Regions from separate parts of the Homo sapiens genome. Here region 2 is linked to region 1. The links come from fine-mapping of genetic effects on plasma protein levels. A gene starts in region 1. The other region holds a variant in brackets. All regions are shown on one strand. Distances are between the middles of the regions.

Region 1 (8,329 bases):
CTCTTGCTAGGCTGCCATTACTGGGGCAGGAGCCTTATCATATTATAGTACTCCAGCACCCAAAACAAGGTCTACCGCATGCGTAGTGCTATAGATCAAATGTCTGTGTCCCCCCTAAATCAATACGTTGATGGCCTTATCACCAATGTAATGACATTTGGAGGTGGAGCCTTTGGGAATTAATTAGGTTAAAATGAAATCATAAAGATAGGGCCCCCATGATAAAGATTAGTTCATTTCTAAGATGAGGAGACCCGGGCTCTCTGTCCCTCTTGGCCATATGAGAATTCAGCTAGAAAGTGGCTGTCTGCAAAGCAGAAAGAGAGATGACAGACACTCACCAGATACTGAGTCTGTTGGCGCCCTGAGCTTGGACTTCCCAGCCTCCAGAAATGTGAGAAATAAATTTCTGTTGTTTAAGCCACCCTATCTAAGGCATTTTTGTTATAGCAGGTTGAACTAAGACACATAGGAAGTGCTCGGTAAATTCAAATGAATGAATGAAAGGGCAAATATCTTTTTCCAGAAGACTTGCTTCTTATGTCTTCTTCCCAACCATTAACCTGCTCTCCTGCATCCGCTCGATCTCCAGTACCATGAACTCTGATTCCTGATGGTAATATTTAGGTTCAAAAAGAAACAGCATGAGAGTTTGGAAGGGAAGGGTGTCTGCACCAGGCAAGGTCAAATTCTCATCTGCCAAAGGTGAGAATACAGGTAACTGGAGTTACTCACTATGCCCTTCAACCCCTTTCTACTTTAGCCTGAATTATCCCAATATTTACACCAACATCTGCTTCATGCCAATCGCAGAGATTTGTTTTCTTGGTGTCTACTAATAGGAGCAGTTTGCCCTTTGGAAAGCAGGGAAAGAAAGAAATAAACATTACTTGAGCACCTACTCCGTGCCAGCTGCTTTTACATGCATTATGTAATCCCTGCAGCCATCCTTCCAGGCTGGTATCATCAGTCCTCCTTGCCCTGCCCCCATTCCTCAGATGGTGAAATGGGAGTTCAGATAAAATAGTTCTGCTGAAGGCCATGTGTTAATAGACAATGGAGCTGGCCTCTGGACCCAGGTCACTCTAATTATGGAGCTGCACTTCTTTTCCTGGACTTTATAAATCTAATTCCAGTGCCCAGTTCAGTCAAACTCCCCAGAACAGCCTTTCCACAGCCTCTTGGATGTTTTGCAATTTGGCTTCATGAAGAAAACTGCAAAAATACAAAAAGGGCAGTTGGATTGACATTTTCCTTGGAGCATTCTCCGGGCTTCTTTTTACCTTTTCTTTCTCTTTTTCACTGCGTGTGTCAAGGGTGACCAATAATTTTTCTCTGAGAAACAGTAATAAAATGTAGTAATCAGAAAGAGGGAGGGGAGAGATGATAGCAAGGCCTCCAGGCTGAGAGGAGCTCCATTCTGCTGACCTTTGGTGTTGCACACACCTGGTTGTTCACAGGTCAGAATTCCCCTCTCTTCTGCCCTTAGTCGCCAGCTAGATCTTGGAGCGCCCCTAGTGGAGGTCTGCACAGTAGGTATATTGGATAAATTGTCTCTGGACAGAATAGGAGGGCCAGTAAATCGAGCTCATTTGAACAGCTTGCAGGAATGGACTTGTAAGCAAAAATAAGAAAACAAGCCACTCTGATCAGAAAATATCCTTTTGCCCTGGAAGGGGAAGGAAAGGAATGTAACATTATTTTCTTAATACCTAACTGAGCCATATGAACACAAGATGAATCCCTCAAGCTTAGATACGGTGGCCCCTGGCAGGAACGGGCAAAACTCTATGGAAAATAATGCCAATCCATAATGAAAATAGTCTTTAAGTGAATCTAACCACAACACACGTTAGAGACTGGGGAAGCAGCAAATTTGAGCCTTATTGAGCAATACTGAATTTGCCTTATTAATTCAAGAGAAAAAGAAAAGAAATTATTCTTAGGCTTTGCAGTCTTTGCATGTAGTTACAATTATTCCCCATGTGCATATCTGAGACAATAAGGAGGCTCTTCAAAAACAAGTTATACTTTATACTTATTCATGCCTTACAGCGAAATGGCCCAGAGAACCACGTGACCTGCATCAGAATGTAGCAACAAGTCCCTTTTGAGTATTTACAAATCCCCTCACTTCACCGCAAGCAGAAGAACTAGTTCGCAACAACGAGTTAGGTGAATGGTTCTCCATCTGACATTAGTGGATGTTGGGCTCTACATTAAAAATAGAATTTATTGTGGAAGGTCAATTGTCTCCAAATGCACCATCAGACTCGGCAATGCTCATTGGCCAGTATCACTCCCTCCTTATGACTCAGAGTCAGAACCACACACTTATTAATGAGCTTTCTGAAGTAGCACATCAATTGACTTTAATTTGGTGGTGACCTGAAGTCAATTTAAAAAATATGCTGGCTAGCCATGGTGTTGAGCAGTTGGAAAAATAGTATGAAATGTCTTAAAAATTAAAACACACACATGTCTCCCCCTGCTCTTACAATGTGTTTGCAGCCCGTGAAGGAAACAGAATAGGAAATCCTTGTCTTAGATGACAATTCAATACGTGCCATTAAGACAATTTTTTTTTCCCTGCAAGGTGGTGTATTGGAGAGTGGAGTTCTCAGAGGTAGAACTGCTTTAGAAAATCCAGTAAGCTGCTGGGTAGATTCAGGTTCTTTTTATATGTGTGTTAGTCACAACACAGATTCAAAAGGGGGTGGGGGAGGGAGAGCTGGACTCAGTTCAAGGCCACCAAGCCATTGTTAGAAAGAGACAGCTAATTAAGAAAGGCCATGCTGTGGTGGAAACGATTTGTTTAAACCAAATCTCTTTCCCTATCTTTCCCAGAGAAACTGTCCAGACCTGGTGTAAATTGTGGACATTATTGCCCCATAAAAAAGGGGTGGGGGTTCTTCAATGATATGCTTTGTTAAACAAAAGGTGATGAACAATTTCCTTTGCTCTGCACTCTGGGCTCTACATTTAAAAAGACGGGGAGATGGGGGATAAAATGCCTGATTTATGCTGAGGGGGGCACTCCAGGCCACCGGGAAGGGTTGAAGGGAAAGGGACCCAGAGCCAGGGCCCATGGAGCTGAGAGCTGTCCAGGGCCTTTGGTGCTGAAAGCAGGTGCGCGCGCTGGGGGTCCAGAACTCCCCGGAGAAGAACACCGCCTGTCCCCCAACTCCGAGTCAAGACGGTGCAAATGACAGAGGCGGAGCCCCAGATAAGCATAGTGCCTGCGCTCCCTCTGTCTTCAGCCTGGGCAGACCCTGCAGCTGTCTGCTTTTTTACACGTGAGGAGCGCATTTCTGGGACCTTGCAAGAAGGCCGGGTCCTGTGGCCAACTAACCCTCCCATTGATTTTCGGGTCTCCTAGGTGCCTGAGAAAACCCCCGAAGCTCTGAGGGTTAGCTTTGGGTGAGTTAGGCGTTGCACCCCTCTCTCTATCTGGCCCTCTCCCCCACCCATAACTTTTCCTGGGGTACCTTACCGGGGTGGAGAGAGGGTATGGTTCCAGGTCTGAGAAAGAGGAGCTGTCATTCTCTGCTAAATTTGGGCCCCTCTTCCCCTTCAACAAACACGTGGTAGATGAAACTAACACCCCTCACCCCCCATTCCTAACAGTGATCAGAGATGCTAGGCAGTAGGGGAGAGAGTAGAGGGGAGCCCGTTCAGGTTCCCAACTGCTAACTAACATCTCTTCTCCCTCCCCTACCAAGTTCTCAGAGCCCTCAGCCCCCTCCACCGGCCTCTAGCGAAAGCCACACCCAAGTCCGGTATCCTGACGCTTGGCTGAGATCGATCCAGGAACACAGACCCTCGGGGTAGCCTGAACCAAAGGAGTCAAGGGTTTCTGTGGTGTCGGGGGGAGCGGCAAATGCACTGTTTGAGTCTAGTCCTCAGTTGCAGGGTGGGTCAGCTTCTCACCCCCCTTCCTGTCCTCTCCCGGAGAGGAAGATAATTATCTGGCACCTAGCCCCGGGTGCGGTTGCAGAGAAGCGCCGGGAATTTGGGGTTTGGAGGCGACCCCACTCCAAGGAGAACCTCTTTGGCTGCAAAGGAGAATCAGCCCCGCAGCCGGGGAAGACCGAAAGGGAGCCCGCAGCCGAAGCAGGGAAGCGCCCGAGTCCTTCAACACATCCCCGCCTCCACACTCCCATCAGCCCGGGCCAAGGGGACGTGCGGTTCCTAGCCCCGATTTTGGACAGCCACCACCGCTTCCCATCCCGGCGGGTGGTGCCTGAGTCGCCCTGGTCAGCCCCGACCCCTGGCTGCCCCGCTCTCCCGGCAACTTTGCCCCCTGCCCGCCCCGCCCCTCGGGGCGCTTACCTCGCTCCAGCGCTGCCGCCGGGCTCCCCAGGAGCAGAGCGAGGAACAGCGAGATCCCGCGGAGTCCCGCGGCGGGCGGCCGGGCCGCGGGCATCGTGGCTGCAGGGGGCGCGGAGCCGCTGGCTGTGGGGCGGGCGGACGGCGAGGGAGCTGGGGAAGGAGGGCGGCGGTGAGCGAGAAAGGGGAAGCGGGAGCGAGGGAGGAGGCCGCGGGCCGGGGCAGCTTCCGGAGCCCCCTGGGCGGACGCGCGCTCAGCCCCGCGGTCGCTCTGGCCGAGCTGCGCCGGGCGCGGGCGGGCGAGTGAGGAGGAGCCGGCGAGCGAGCGAACGAGCGTGGAGCGAGCGGGAGGAGGGAGGGGGCTGGGGCCGAGTCTGTGCCGAGCGAGTGCAGGGAGGGAGGGGGCGGGCGAGCGGGCAGTGAGCTGGAGGGGCCGCGGCGGCGCCGGGGGTGCCAGCCGCCTCCTCTGGCCGCCGGCCCGTCGGCCCTGCAAAGTTTAACGCCAATTCCCCTTGCGTCCTGGGAGCCGAGCGTTTTCTCTCCCTGCTGACGCTCCCAGCAGCTCTGCCTGGCCAGGCCAGGCTGGAGAGCACCCGGACCATTTTCCAGACGGTGAGATGGAGCCCTGGAAACCGAGCTTATGAGCAGCCCGGAGCTTTCCATTGCCTGCCCAGCCTTCCAGATACATCCCAGTTCCAGTTCTTTCCAGAGCCCTCTGGGATCCAGCCAGCCTGCTTCCCCGCCAGGGCCTCACTGCTTCCAAAGTGAGTCCCCATAACCTAGAAAGTCTGTAACTCTGTGGATCTGGTGACAGCTGTGAATCTACTAGAACACTACACATAGCCACAAAATCGTGCATCTAACACGAGGGGGTCTGGACCCCTCTGAAGCCCAATCACGAACTCTAAATTAAGATCCACCTCCACTTTTTAATCTGAGCCCTGTCTCCCATAACCCCACTGCCGGCAGGGCACTAGCGCTGCGAGGCTTCCTCTCAGGTCAGCCGCTTGCCTCTTCCTGTACCCGCTTCCCTATCTGAGCAGGACTACAAGGCCCACCTCTGCAGCATTCTTGCCCAGGCCTGATTCTCAAGCAAAGTCTTTTCTCCACAAATAGAGGTAGTGAGGGACAATCAATGAGGGAGATAAACAGATACTTGGGGACAGACATTGGCAGAGAGCTAGGTGGGGACAAGCTTATGCACAGTCCTGGAGACTGACTGTCTCTCCCTGCGTAGCCTTGGCAGACCGGTCAGGCTTTACAGGCCTCTCACCCAATTTAGAAGCTGTCCTCCTCCCCCTACCCTACCTTGCCATACTATCTACACACTGCAGCCTGAACAGGCAGAGGGAGCAGATGGAGAGAAGGTTGCAGGCAGCAACAGGGGGAGGAATATGTCTTTAGCAGCGTGGTGGAGCCGGGAGTCCCTAGAAAGAATGGGTGGGGGAGGTGAACACTGGATGGAGGAGGGAAGGAGAAGCACTCTGGCCCAGGGTTTCAGAAGACGCTCCACACCCAGAGCTTCCCCATTTACTCACTCAAACAATGCTCTTTTACAGGCCACTGACTATAGGCCCAGACCTGCCTCAGGCTTTGGGGGACAGAGAGCCCCCCCATAAAATCCTATCTTCAGCTGCAAGAGGTTTCCATTCCTGGCAGTAAACCCAACTGGCTTTTATAAAGAAGGTGGCTGAGGCAGGGATGCAGGAGTGCTGATTTCTCCTTTGGAGAAGATGAAGCACTCCATGCTTTACTGTATGAGGCTGCCAGCTCTCTGTGGAATGACCTTGCCTGTTTGTGGCTATACGCTCAGGCTCTGTATAGTATAATGCAGGCATGCAGCGGGTGCTCAGTGAGACTTGTTCAATGGAAACCTAAAGAAGCAAGGAAGATGGAGGAGGAGGGGAAAGGGAAGAAAGCGAGCGAGAGAAAAACGAAGAGGTAGTTTAGCTCCATACTTGGAGGCAAGGAAACTATTTTTAATTCCTAGGTTCAGGGGTACTTGTGCAGGTTTGTTATGTGTGCAAACTTGTGTCATGGGAGTTTGTTGTACAGATGATTTCACCAACCAGGTATTAAGCCTGGTACTCAATAGTAATTTTTTTCTGATCCTCTCCCTCCTCCTGCCTTCCACCCTCTGGTAGGCCTCTGTGTGTGTTGTTCCCCTCTATGTGTCTGTGTGCTCTCATCATTTAGCTCCCACCTATAAGTGAGAACTTGTGATATTTGGTTTTCTGTTCCTGCATTAGTGTGCTAAGGATAATGGTCTCCAGCTCCATTCATGTTTTTGCAAAGAACATGATCTCATTCTTTTTTATGACTGCATAGTATTCCATGGTGTATATGTACCGTATATATGCTCATTCATTGATGAGCATTTAGGTTGATTCCATGTCTTTGCTCTTGTGAATAGTGCTGCAATGAACATACATGGGCATGTGTCTTTATAATAGAACAATTTATATTCCTTTGGGTATATACCCAGTAATGTCAGACAACCTACAGAATGGGAGAAAAATTTTACAAACTATGCATCTGCAAAAGTCTAATATCCAGCATCTATAAGGAACTTAAACAAATTTACAGGAAAAAAACCAAACAACCCAACTGAGAAGGAAACTATTGTGTAAAGAATCCACTGTTTGCCAGGTGCTGTCCCACACCGAGCATGGTCTCTCATTTCAATTTCATAATCTTCCTGAAAACGAGGTGTGGTTATTGCCATCTGAAAGATAAGTATCTGATTTTTTATGGGGGGTCCCAACCCAGCCAAGGTCACTCAGTCAGGAAGCGGTGGGATTTGGCAGATTCAAGGGCAGCCCTGACTACAGAGCCAGAACCCATTTCACCTTCACAGCCTACTTCCCAGAAATTTGGTGGCTGCCTCTGTGCTATGATTTGGTTGCTACCTGCTGAAGCTTCAACCTCTCATCACTACCAGAAGGACCACATCACTAAAAGTCCATCAATGGGGTTACTCACTTTGGTAAGTACATTGAACTTCTAGATCATTGCTTGCATGCAGGTGTCTTATGTGGAAGAAGTGACACTGTAAACCATTAACCCATTGAACATATGGACCGTGATTTACTCATTCCATTTGCTGGCTAAAACAAGGCACAGAGAAAAGTCTTGAGGAAATGAGACACAGACCTGATTATCTGAGATTGTGATGTTGGGAACATAAAGTGATTATTTAGGAGCAGTATCAAGACTATTTTTGGAAGAAGAAATAGCATAATAGAAATAGAATTCTGAAAGGGACTAGAACAGTTTGCAGATGAAAATCTGCAATCACAATTTTGATAGCCATTTTACAGATGAGGAAACTGAGGGCCAGGGAGGCAAAGTAACTTGCTCGATATCACACACTTGGTTTACCTTTTACCTTTTACTGTTTCCATGGCAGTGATGTTGTGGTCTGTCTAATAGGGCACATCCTGCCTAGATTCTGGTGTCAGGGTGAGCTTCCTCCTACCCAATGCCACCTGGGGAGATAATTTTAGCTTCTCTGCTGATTAGATGATGTGTGCCTACAATTCTATTCACCTTATATTTTGCCATGTGATAAACAGAGCATCAGCTCTTATGCGGTTAAAATTAGTACAGTGGTGACAAAGGGTTATATCCTAGCCTTGCCTCTTCCTTATAGGATGACAAGGGCAAGTTACTTAACCTCTCTGAGCTTTATTTTCCTCTTCTGAGAAGTAGGGATAAAAATAACACTTATCACATGGAGTGATTGACATAAATGGATAATAATATCCTCGTGGATGAGGGGATATTATGGCACTTATTTCCTAGGGTTATAGAGAAGATCCCATGAACTGATGGACTAAAGGCTAATGCTGTGTGATATTAAGTGAGTCACCAGTCTCTCTGGGACTCTGTTTCCTTATTCATCTACCCACCTATCTACACACCCACCTATTTGTCCATGTATTTACTAGTCCATGCATCCATCCAGCAATTTATCTATCCCTCTACCTACCCTTCCTTC
Region 2 (8,329 bases), 120 kb before region 1:
GTAAGAGAAGAGAGGAATGAACAGAGAGCAAAACAGAGAAGACAGGAACAGACAAAAAGGAAAACCAGTAGAGGAAGAAGAAAAGAGAGAAGTACCCTGTTAAGGCTCTTTATCAGGAGTCTGTGGACGCACAGTGGATCTATATATTGAATTCAGGGCCTGTGAACTTGAATGAAGGAAAGCTGCTTGCTTATTTTCATTAACCTCTACCTTAGCTGTGCTATTTTCCTGGCAACAAACTGAAACATTGTAGTAGAACCTGTGACTTTGACACCAAGAGAAACCACAGATATTTTTCATATCATAATGGATATCTCAACCTATTTCTTATGCTCCTTAGTACTTTGAAATGTCAGCAATTATAAGAACTACTAGAAGACATTGTTTAATGAATTAATAAAAAGCACATAGATTAAGGCATCATAGATTATAACAGTATTTTGATAACTGCAGCTCAGTAATACCGTTTTCTTTAAAATTGTATATATTTTATTTTATACTTTTAAAAACATTATTCTGAGAAGGGGTTTGTAGGTTTTACCAAACTGTCAGAGAGGTCCCTGGCACAAAAAGTTTTAAAATCCTTTTCTCCAGAGGGAAACTGAGGCAAACGCCTATGTTTCATCAGCCTTGGCCTGACCCTACCCTGGTAGTGAAGCTGGAAGGTCCCAAGGCCGTCGTCCTGGAAGGTCCGGAAGTAGACGGAGATGGTGTTGGTGGGGCTTCGGATTACCTGCCCCTCCACCAGGAGTGTCTGGTTGGCCAGGACGGTCAGGGTAGGGCCGTCCACCCCGCGGATGGAGAGCAGTTCCCCATCGGACAGGTTCACACTCTTCACCTGGGAACAGGCAGAAGCAGACAGAGAGGAACTCTGAGTTGTGTTTGAGACAGAGCCTTCTAAGGTTGCAAAGAAGTCAGTGAAAAGTGGCCCAGGTACTGCTAGCCCCTGGTCAACGGGACCCCTGGGCCCCATGCCGAGCCCACAGGAGCCCTGGGAATATCAAGGTCCCCCTAATTTCCCCAAAAGCCAAGGGGATAGAGTGAAACCAAACTGCAAGGCAGAGGCATTGCAAGGGACTTGCAATGTGAGGCCCCCATTGCTGTGTCCTGTAAGAGGGGCCTTTGGCACAGGCCCTGGATGCTAGTGGGTGGGATAGATTATCCTGGAGCTGGTGAGTGGAGGCAGCAGTTGGATCAGCTTGTGCTTGAGATCCAATCTCCAGGGAGCCGGGAGAAGCATTCTACCAGAATGTATACTCTGCAAGGTTAGGGATTTCTCCATGCTGTTCAATGTTTCCAGTGCCTAGAATAGTACCTGGCACATATTAAGTGCTCAGAAAATATTTAAAAAAGATTGAATATATTCTTCCATTTTCTGCATAAATTGGTAAGTGAGGGGTGGGGGCCTCATTTCTAGGGCACTCTCTGGCCCATTCTCTTATTCTCCCCAGTGGTGGCTACAACTGCAGGACAATCAACCCCTATCTCAAAGAATCAGACACTTGCTTTGCCATTTACACTCTGTGGGATTTGAGAAGAAAGAAGCGAGATACTTTAGTTGTACGCAGGGAGGCTGAACAAATGGTATGTGCGCGTGTGTGTGTAAGGGAGAATTTAGTCAGGTCTCAATGCCTAATTTGAAGACTTACGCTTTTATGAGTAGGGCTTGGAACTTTAGTTTCTCTGCCTCTCCTCTAAACAGGGCAGGCCTTACCCACAAGCTCTTCTTCCTTCAGGCCCTATATCTTATCCTCTTTTCTCTTTGATGAACTCCTACTCATTCACCAAAGCCCCATTAAAATTGCCCTCCTCTATGAGACCTTCCCTGATTGCCAAGGAGTTTGCCTGTTCCTTTGCTGCGATTCTACAACAACCTCTAAAACACCAATTAGAGTCCCTACTAAATGGCATCCTACGTATTTCTCTTTTAGGGCAGGCATTGCATCAGTTTTTTACATCAACATATTCTCCTGTGTCAACAGCTTTGCCTGGTGCATTCTAATTGCTCAATGAATGAACTCTACTGTGCCTGGTAAAAGGCTCCACACAGTACTGGACACATACTGGGTCCAATACTCTTCATGACATGGAGGAAAGGGTTCTTAAGCACTATAATAATCTGGACTGCAGGTTTTCTCCAGTTTATTTTAATTCCATGAACAATTATTAAGGACCTACAATGTGCCACACACTTGTGCAAAGCTCTGGGGACTGCAAAGACTACAGGTTCTACTGCTGAGGGGCTTACCTTTTGTCTCTCTTATACAAGTAAAACAAAAACAAAAACAAAAAACCTTCCTAAGGTAAGGTCATACACCTGCCCCAGCTCAGAAACTTTTGATGGCTCTTTATTTCCCATGAGAAAAAGGAACACATTCAGGGTGATTAGCATACTGAAGATAATGGATAACATGCACTGCATGGTCGCGATTTCTGCTGGGCTCTGACCAAATGATTTCTCTCTCTCTCCTCCCTCTCTCTCTGCTGGGCTGTGGCCAAATGATCTCTGCATTGTCATATTTACTGCTCCCCCAAACTTTACAAAGCAGTAACATTATTCCTATTTTATTGATCGGGAAACTGAGGCTCAGAGAGGTGAAGTTCCTTGTTCAAAGTCACGCAGTTTTAACTGGAAGAGGTAGGACTTAAAACCCAGATGTTTGAGCATTATGCCACCCTGCTTTTCCTTTCTTACTGTATGGGCAAAAGTTTAAGAATAAAATGTCCTAATAACCAGAAAATGAAGGAAAGCAAGCAAGCAAGCAAGAAAGAAAGAAAGAAAGAAAGAAAGAGAAAGAGAAAGAAGCAAGAAAGCAGGAAGCAAGCAAGCAAGCAAGAAAGAAAGAAAGAAAGAGAAAGAGAAAGAAGCAAGAAAGCAGGAAGCAAGCAAGCAAGCAAGAAAGAAAGAGAAAGAGAAATAAGGAAGCAAGCAAGCAAGAAAGAATCAAATGAATCAGGTGGAGCTTCCGTGTGTGTGTGTGTGTGTGTGTGTGTGTGTGTGTGTTTATGCACGTGCATGCGTGTGTGTATGTGTGTGTGAGATAAGCAGAGTATCAAGGGATTTTCCTTCTGGGAAATACCTCAGAATTTGTCAGCATGTTCCCTCTATCCCCACAAGCTATTTTAGCAAAGCATTGAGTTAAGAACTCCTA[C/T]TCATTCGCCAAAACCCAGCTAAAGTTGGCCTGGTTGGGCAAAGACAGAACCAAACTAGTTAGCATAACAGTAAGCCTGACTCAGACAATCCTCCTGAGACTTCCTGCTAGACGAGGCAGCCTCTGTGAGGTACTCTCCTGGGGTTACCTGGAGCTCCACCCCATAGCCAGTGTAGACTGTCACGTTGTATGTGCACTCCAGAAAGTTGTTGAGGGGCAGCAGTGGGTAGTCGCTGGAGTCAATGTACCCCTCAGGATTGGAGAAGCTCACACTGCAGAGAGCTGGAAGGAAGGACTTTAATTAGGACACCAAAGACAACTTGGATGTAAGCTCAACCATGGGCTGTGGGGTGGAATGGGGGCTTTAGGGGAACCTGCATTTTGCTGTTCCCATCTGTCCTTCTGCTGTTAATTCCTCAGCTCCAGAATTGACATGATAATAAAAATAGCAATAATTGACACAGAATGATCACTTACTATATCCTGCTAGGCACCATTTTAGCTAGTCAACAGGGGTGACCCCACTTATTCTCATAGGGACTGATAATATTTCATCCCCAGTTTAGAGGGAAGTAAACAAAAGCTCAGAGAGGGGCCGAGCTCAAACAGCAAGCAGGATTTGGACCCAGAGCTCACGTGCTTTGAAGGGTGGCCACATTGCACTTGTCCAAAATCCATGTATGCTTGACAATTGGGGGTCCTTCTCCCATTTTAAAGATGGTAGAGAAGACTGGAACACAGAAGAGCATTTTATCAAGTCTAGAAAATACATGTAATGCTAAAAGCAAATGTGCTTTGAAAAGGCTAGTGGCTTTGAAGCAGGTTAAATGAAGAATTCCGTTCCAAGATGAAAAGGTTTTGAATCTTGCTCATTAGCTGTGTGACCTTTGGCAGGTTGCTTGGGGGTCTCAGGGTTTCAGTTGTCTCATCTTTAAAATGGGGATGTTGGCTGAGTGTCCTGGCTCATGCCTGTAATCCCAGTGCTTTGGGAGGCTGAGGTGGGAGGATTGCTTGAGCCCAGGAGTTCCCCAGCCTGGACAATAAGCAAGACCCCCTTTCTACAAAAAACAAAAAAATTAGCTGGACATCATAGTGCATGCTTGTAGTCCCAGCTACTCAAGAGGCTGAGGCAAGAGGATCACTTGAGCACAGGAGTTTGAGGCTGCAGTGAGCTATGATCGTGCCATGGCACTCCAGCCTGGGCGAAAGATCAAGACCCCTTTGCTAAAACAACCCCCCAAAACAACAAACAAATGAAATGAGGCTATTAATTCTGAGCCACAGGGCGAAGCTCATAGTCAGTGCTCAATGGACGGTAACTGATGGTGGGGCCGGGGCTTCTTGAGATTCCTCTACCCACATGCCCTGAACATAGTGAGTGCCTCATGGCTGTTTCAGGATGGCTTCAGGAGTTGGGGGCTGCATACCTGGTGCCTGCTCGGTGGTGATGACCGTGGTGGTGATAATGGTGGAGGTAGTGGTCTCCTGGCTCTCCTCTGAGGCTGACCCAGTCAGCTCATTCTCACCTTTGTCCATCAGGGCCATGGGGCTGGTGTCCTCCTGGGGGGCCTCCTGGGCCATGTCAGGCCCAGGCTCCCCGGGTTCTGGCCTCTGGGGGAGTGTGTGGGCCACATAGGGCTGCGAAGTGAAGGGGGAGATTTGCAGGGGTGCGGGTGTTGTAGGGACCGCACTCTCCTTTCGGTCCAGCCAAAGGGGCACTTCTGATGCCTCCTCGGAGGCCACGATGGGGTCCGGGTCCCCCGGTGGGCCAGGCTTCTCCGTGGAGGAGGAGAGGAGATCTAGGCCCTGGGACGCTGGCTGGGACCCTGCCCTTTGGACAGTGGCTGCGGAGGTGGCCTTGGGCCTCAGCTGCTTCCTGGCAGAGTTCACCTGCTTGAGCGAAGGCAGTTTCTTCTTGGGGGGCAAGGCGTGCTTGGGGCGGGCCTCCTCTGGAAGCAGCGGTGACAGGGCTGGGATGTCGTGATGTGCAGAGGGTGCGGTCCCATCCAGCACCAGCTCGCCCAGCACTTCCGCCGACTGTGAGGAACTGGGGGGCGCTGTTACCACTCTCTCTTCAGGGTGCTCTTTGCCAGGACTGCCTCTCTCCGGGGCTCCTGAGGGCAGGAGGTAAGGACCCAAAGGGCTAGCATCTCCCTCGGGAAGAGCATCTTGGAAGAGGAGAAAAGACACCAGTTAGTTTGGGGAGATTTAGGACCTTCACCTGCTGTCAGACTCTGAGGGTGGCCCTCCTAAGGGCGGTGCCCAAAGCTCGTCCGGCTGGCCTCTAAACCAACTTCTCCTTTCTCCCTCCCTCCCTTCCTTTCTTTTTTCTCCTCCTTCCCTCTCTCCCTCTTTCTCTTTTCTTCCTTCTTTTCCTCCCACCCTCCCTCCTTCCTTCTTTCCTTCCTCCTTCCTTCCTTCCTTCCTTTCTTTCTTTCTTTCCTCCCTCCCTCCTTCCTTTCCCCTTCCATTTTTTTCTTTCTTCCTTCCTCCTTCATTTTCTTCCTTCATTTCCTTCCTTCTTTCCTTCCATCCATCCTTCCTTCCTTCCTTCCTTCCTTCCTTCCTTCCTTCCTTCCTTCCTTCCTTCCTTCCTTTTCCTGAAGACTTGGGCTTGATCATGCCAGGACTGAGCTAAGCATTAGGAGTATAGAAACAAAAAGCACAGGGGCCTCACTGCCTGGTTGTATATGTACTGGGAAGGGGGATGGGAAAGTAGACACAATCATATTTGATATGATGAATGCTTGGAAAGAGAAAAGCTTGTGTGCTAAGAGAGCAGAGAGGACGGGCCCTAACCCCGTCTGCAGGACAGGCATGCCATGTACAGTTGGGCAGATTGTTCCCTGTACAAAGACATGCAGCTAAGAGGATGAGTGGGGATGGACACCAGGCCACACTCTCTTTTCTAAGCTGTGTGCTCTGGCTGGGCTTGGGGGATGGGGGAGGAGAGTTTTTTTAAATTTAAATTTTAATTTTAAGTTCTGGGGCCTATGTGCAGGATGTGCAGGTTTGTTATGTAGGTAAACATGTGCCATGGTGGTTTGCTGCACCTATCAACCCACGCTAGGTATTAAGCCCAGCATGCATTACCTATTTTTCCTAATGCTCTCCCCTCCCCCAACTCCACCCCGCAACAGGCCCCAGTGTGTGTTACTCCCCTCCCTGTGTCCATGTGTTCTCATTGTTCAACTCCCACTTATAAGTGAGAACATGTGGTGTTTGGTTTTCTGTTCCTGCCTTAGTTTGCTAGGGATAATGTCTTCCAGCTCCATCTATGTCCCTGCAAAGGACATGATTTTGTTTGTCTTTATGGCTGCATAGTATTCCATGGTGTACATGTACCACATTTTCTTTATCCAGTCTATCATTGATGGGCATTAGGTTGATTCCACGTCTTTGCTATTGTGAATAGTGCAGCAATGAACATGTGCATGCATGTATCTTTGTAACAGAATGATTTATATTCCTTTGGGTATATATGTAATGGGACCCAGTAATGGGATTGCTGAGTCAAATGCTATTTCTGGTTCCAGATCTTTGAGGAATCTCAGCACCATCTTCCACAATGGTTGAATTAATTTACATTCCCACCAACAGTGTAAAAGCAGGGTTGGGGGAGGTACATTTTAAACTGAAGGAATGTAAGAGTGACCTTGTGGGAGACACAGAAATGTTTTAGGATTCAGAGTCACGAGGCAGATTCAGAACAGAGGACTGTGTGAAGACCCATGGAGGCTTGGAGGCTGGGCAGAGGTGGGCACAAAAGAATTGCAAGGGGTTTTGGAGCACAAGTGGAGAGTACGGGGGATAAAGCTGGTAAGGTAGGGAGGCAGGGGCCAGGCCCTGGAGGGCCTTGTATACCTTGCTAACTTCTTGTAATTCATTTTGTTTTTTCTTGAGACGGATCTCACTATGGCTGGTTGCAAACTCCTGGGATCAAGTGATCCTCCCACCTTGGTCCCCATCCTTGCGATTTATTTTTGTCTGGAAGGTAAAACCATTTAGTCATTTTATTTTATTTTATTTTATTTATTTTTTTGAGACGGAGTCTCACTCTGTCGCCCAGGCTGGAGTGCAGTGGCGCGATCTCGGCTCACTGCAAGCTCCGCCTCCCGGGTTCACGCCATTCTCCTGCCTCAGCCTCCTGAGCAGCTGGGACCACAGGTGCGTGCCACCATGCCCAGCTAATTTTTTGTATTTTTTAGTAGAGACAGGGTTTCACCATGTTAGCCAGGATGGTCTCGATCTCCTGACCTCGTGATCCACCCGCCTCGGCCTCCCAAAGTGCTGGGATTACAGGCGTGAGCCACCGCGCCCGGCCCAATAGTCATTTTAAAGAAGGGCTGGCCCAGGCAGCTGTCTGGCAGAATGGTGCTGGAAACCAGCTTTGTTTGCTTTTTAAAGACCCAGTTCTGCCAATTGCTGGTTAATGACTTCACTCTCCAAGCCTCAGTTCCCTCAGCTGTCAAATGGGGCTATTATTTCCTATTTCCTGGGGTTGCCATCATTCAGCGAGTTGATGTATGCAAAGCACTTAGGACAGCGCCTCACCCGTAGTGAGTGCTTAGCAAATGCCAGCTGCCGTCATGGTTTTTACTCTTGTCATTGCAATCACAGCCCCTCGGCAGGAAACTGGAGCAATCAGAACATCCCCGTGAAGATGTCTAGATAGAGAGGAATTACATCACGGGGACAAAGGCCCTCGGACTGATAGCTGTCCTTGTCGATTTTCTGCAGGGAGACACTCACTCAGCTACAGTCTCCAGGCCCTCCAGTGCTGTCATTTAAATTTATTTCAGCAGTCGTTGGAGAGGCTCATTTACTTTCATGGAGTTGGCGGCGGTGGCTTAATCTATATAGACTGCAACAGTTTGCAACTGGCATCAACAAATGTTCCTGTTGTGTAACATTGATTACCAGCCAGTGTTCCTTCCAGGCCGCCAGTGATGCTGGGCCAGGAATGGGTATCTGGGAGCAGCGTGAGTGGATGGCATGAGGGCAGGTCAAGGTCATTCAGGCATCAGGCAGATTTCCTAGTCCAAGGTGGGGAGTAGTGAAGCTTCAGAGTTAGGGTTCAAATCCTGCCTGTTACAGTTATGAGCTGAGTGAGTCTGGGCAAGTCCTTGAACCTTGCTGAGGTTCAGCAGCCTCTTTTGTATAATGGAGGTATTCTA

Direction of the effects. Alleles are on the strand shown, and positions count from the first base shown. The strength of an association depends on the size of the effect and on how common the allele is.
With allele T in place of C in region 2, the plasma level of the protein whose gene starts at base 4,634 in region 1 is lower (weak association).

Evidence for each region. A credible set is the group of variants that fine-mapping cannot tell apart. PIP is the chance, under the fine-mapping model, that this variant and not a neighbour inherited with it causes the effect. The UK Biobank Pharma Proteomics Project read protein levels with antibody pairs (Olink). The fine-mapping took linkage between variants from a reference panel, not from the people measured, so its PIPs are less certain.
Region 2: its variant is the best candidate, but not a certain one, in a credible set for the plasma level of the SEZ6L protein (UK Biobank, PIP 0.63).

The regions. Positions count from the first base shown.
Region 1 is chr22:26,165,767-26,174,095 of GRCh38, reverse strand. It overlaps SEZ6L (seizure related 6 homolog like), which reads right to left and starts at 4,634. Exons shown (of 17, transcript NM_021115.5): 1 at 4,333-4,634. The coding sequence starts at 4,426. It overlaps LOC105372971 (a long non-coding RNA gene), which reads left to right and starts at 4,862. Exons shown (of 6, transcript NR_188586.1): 1 at 4,862-5,093; 2 at 7,167-7,315. RefSeq lists an enhancer at 2,716-3,655 and a silencer at 4,482-4,611.
Region 2 is chr22:26,289,397-26,297,725 of GRCh38, reverse strand. SEZ6L (seizure related 6 homolog like) reads right to left here. Exons shown (of 17, transcript NM_021115.5): 2 at 4,580-5,320; 3 at 3,301-3,434; 4 at 646-838. Among named protein-coding and RNA genes, the nearest start is that of SEZ6L-AS1, 47 kb to the right of the region's middle. The variant C/T (reference allele first, on the strand shown) is at 3,153.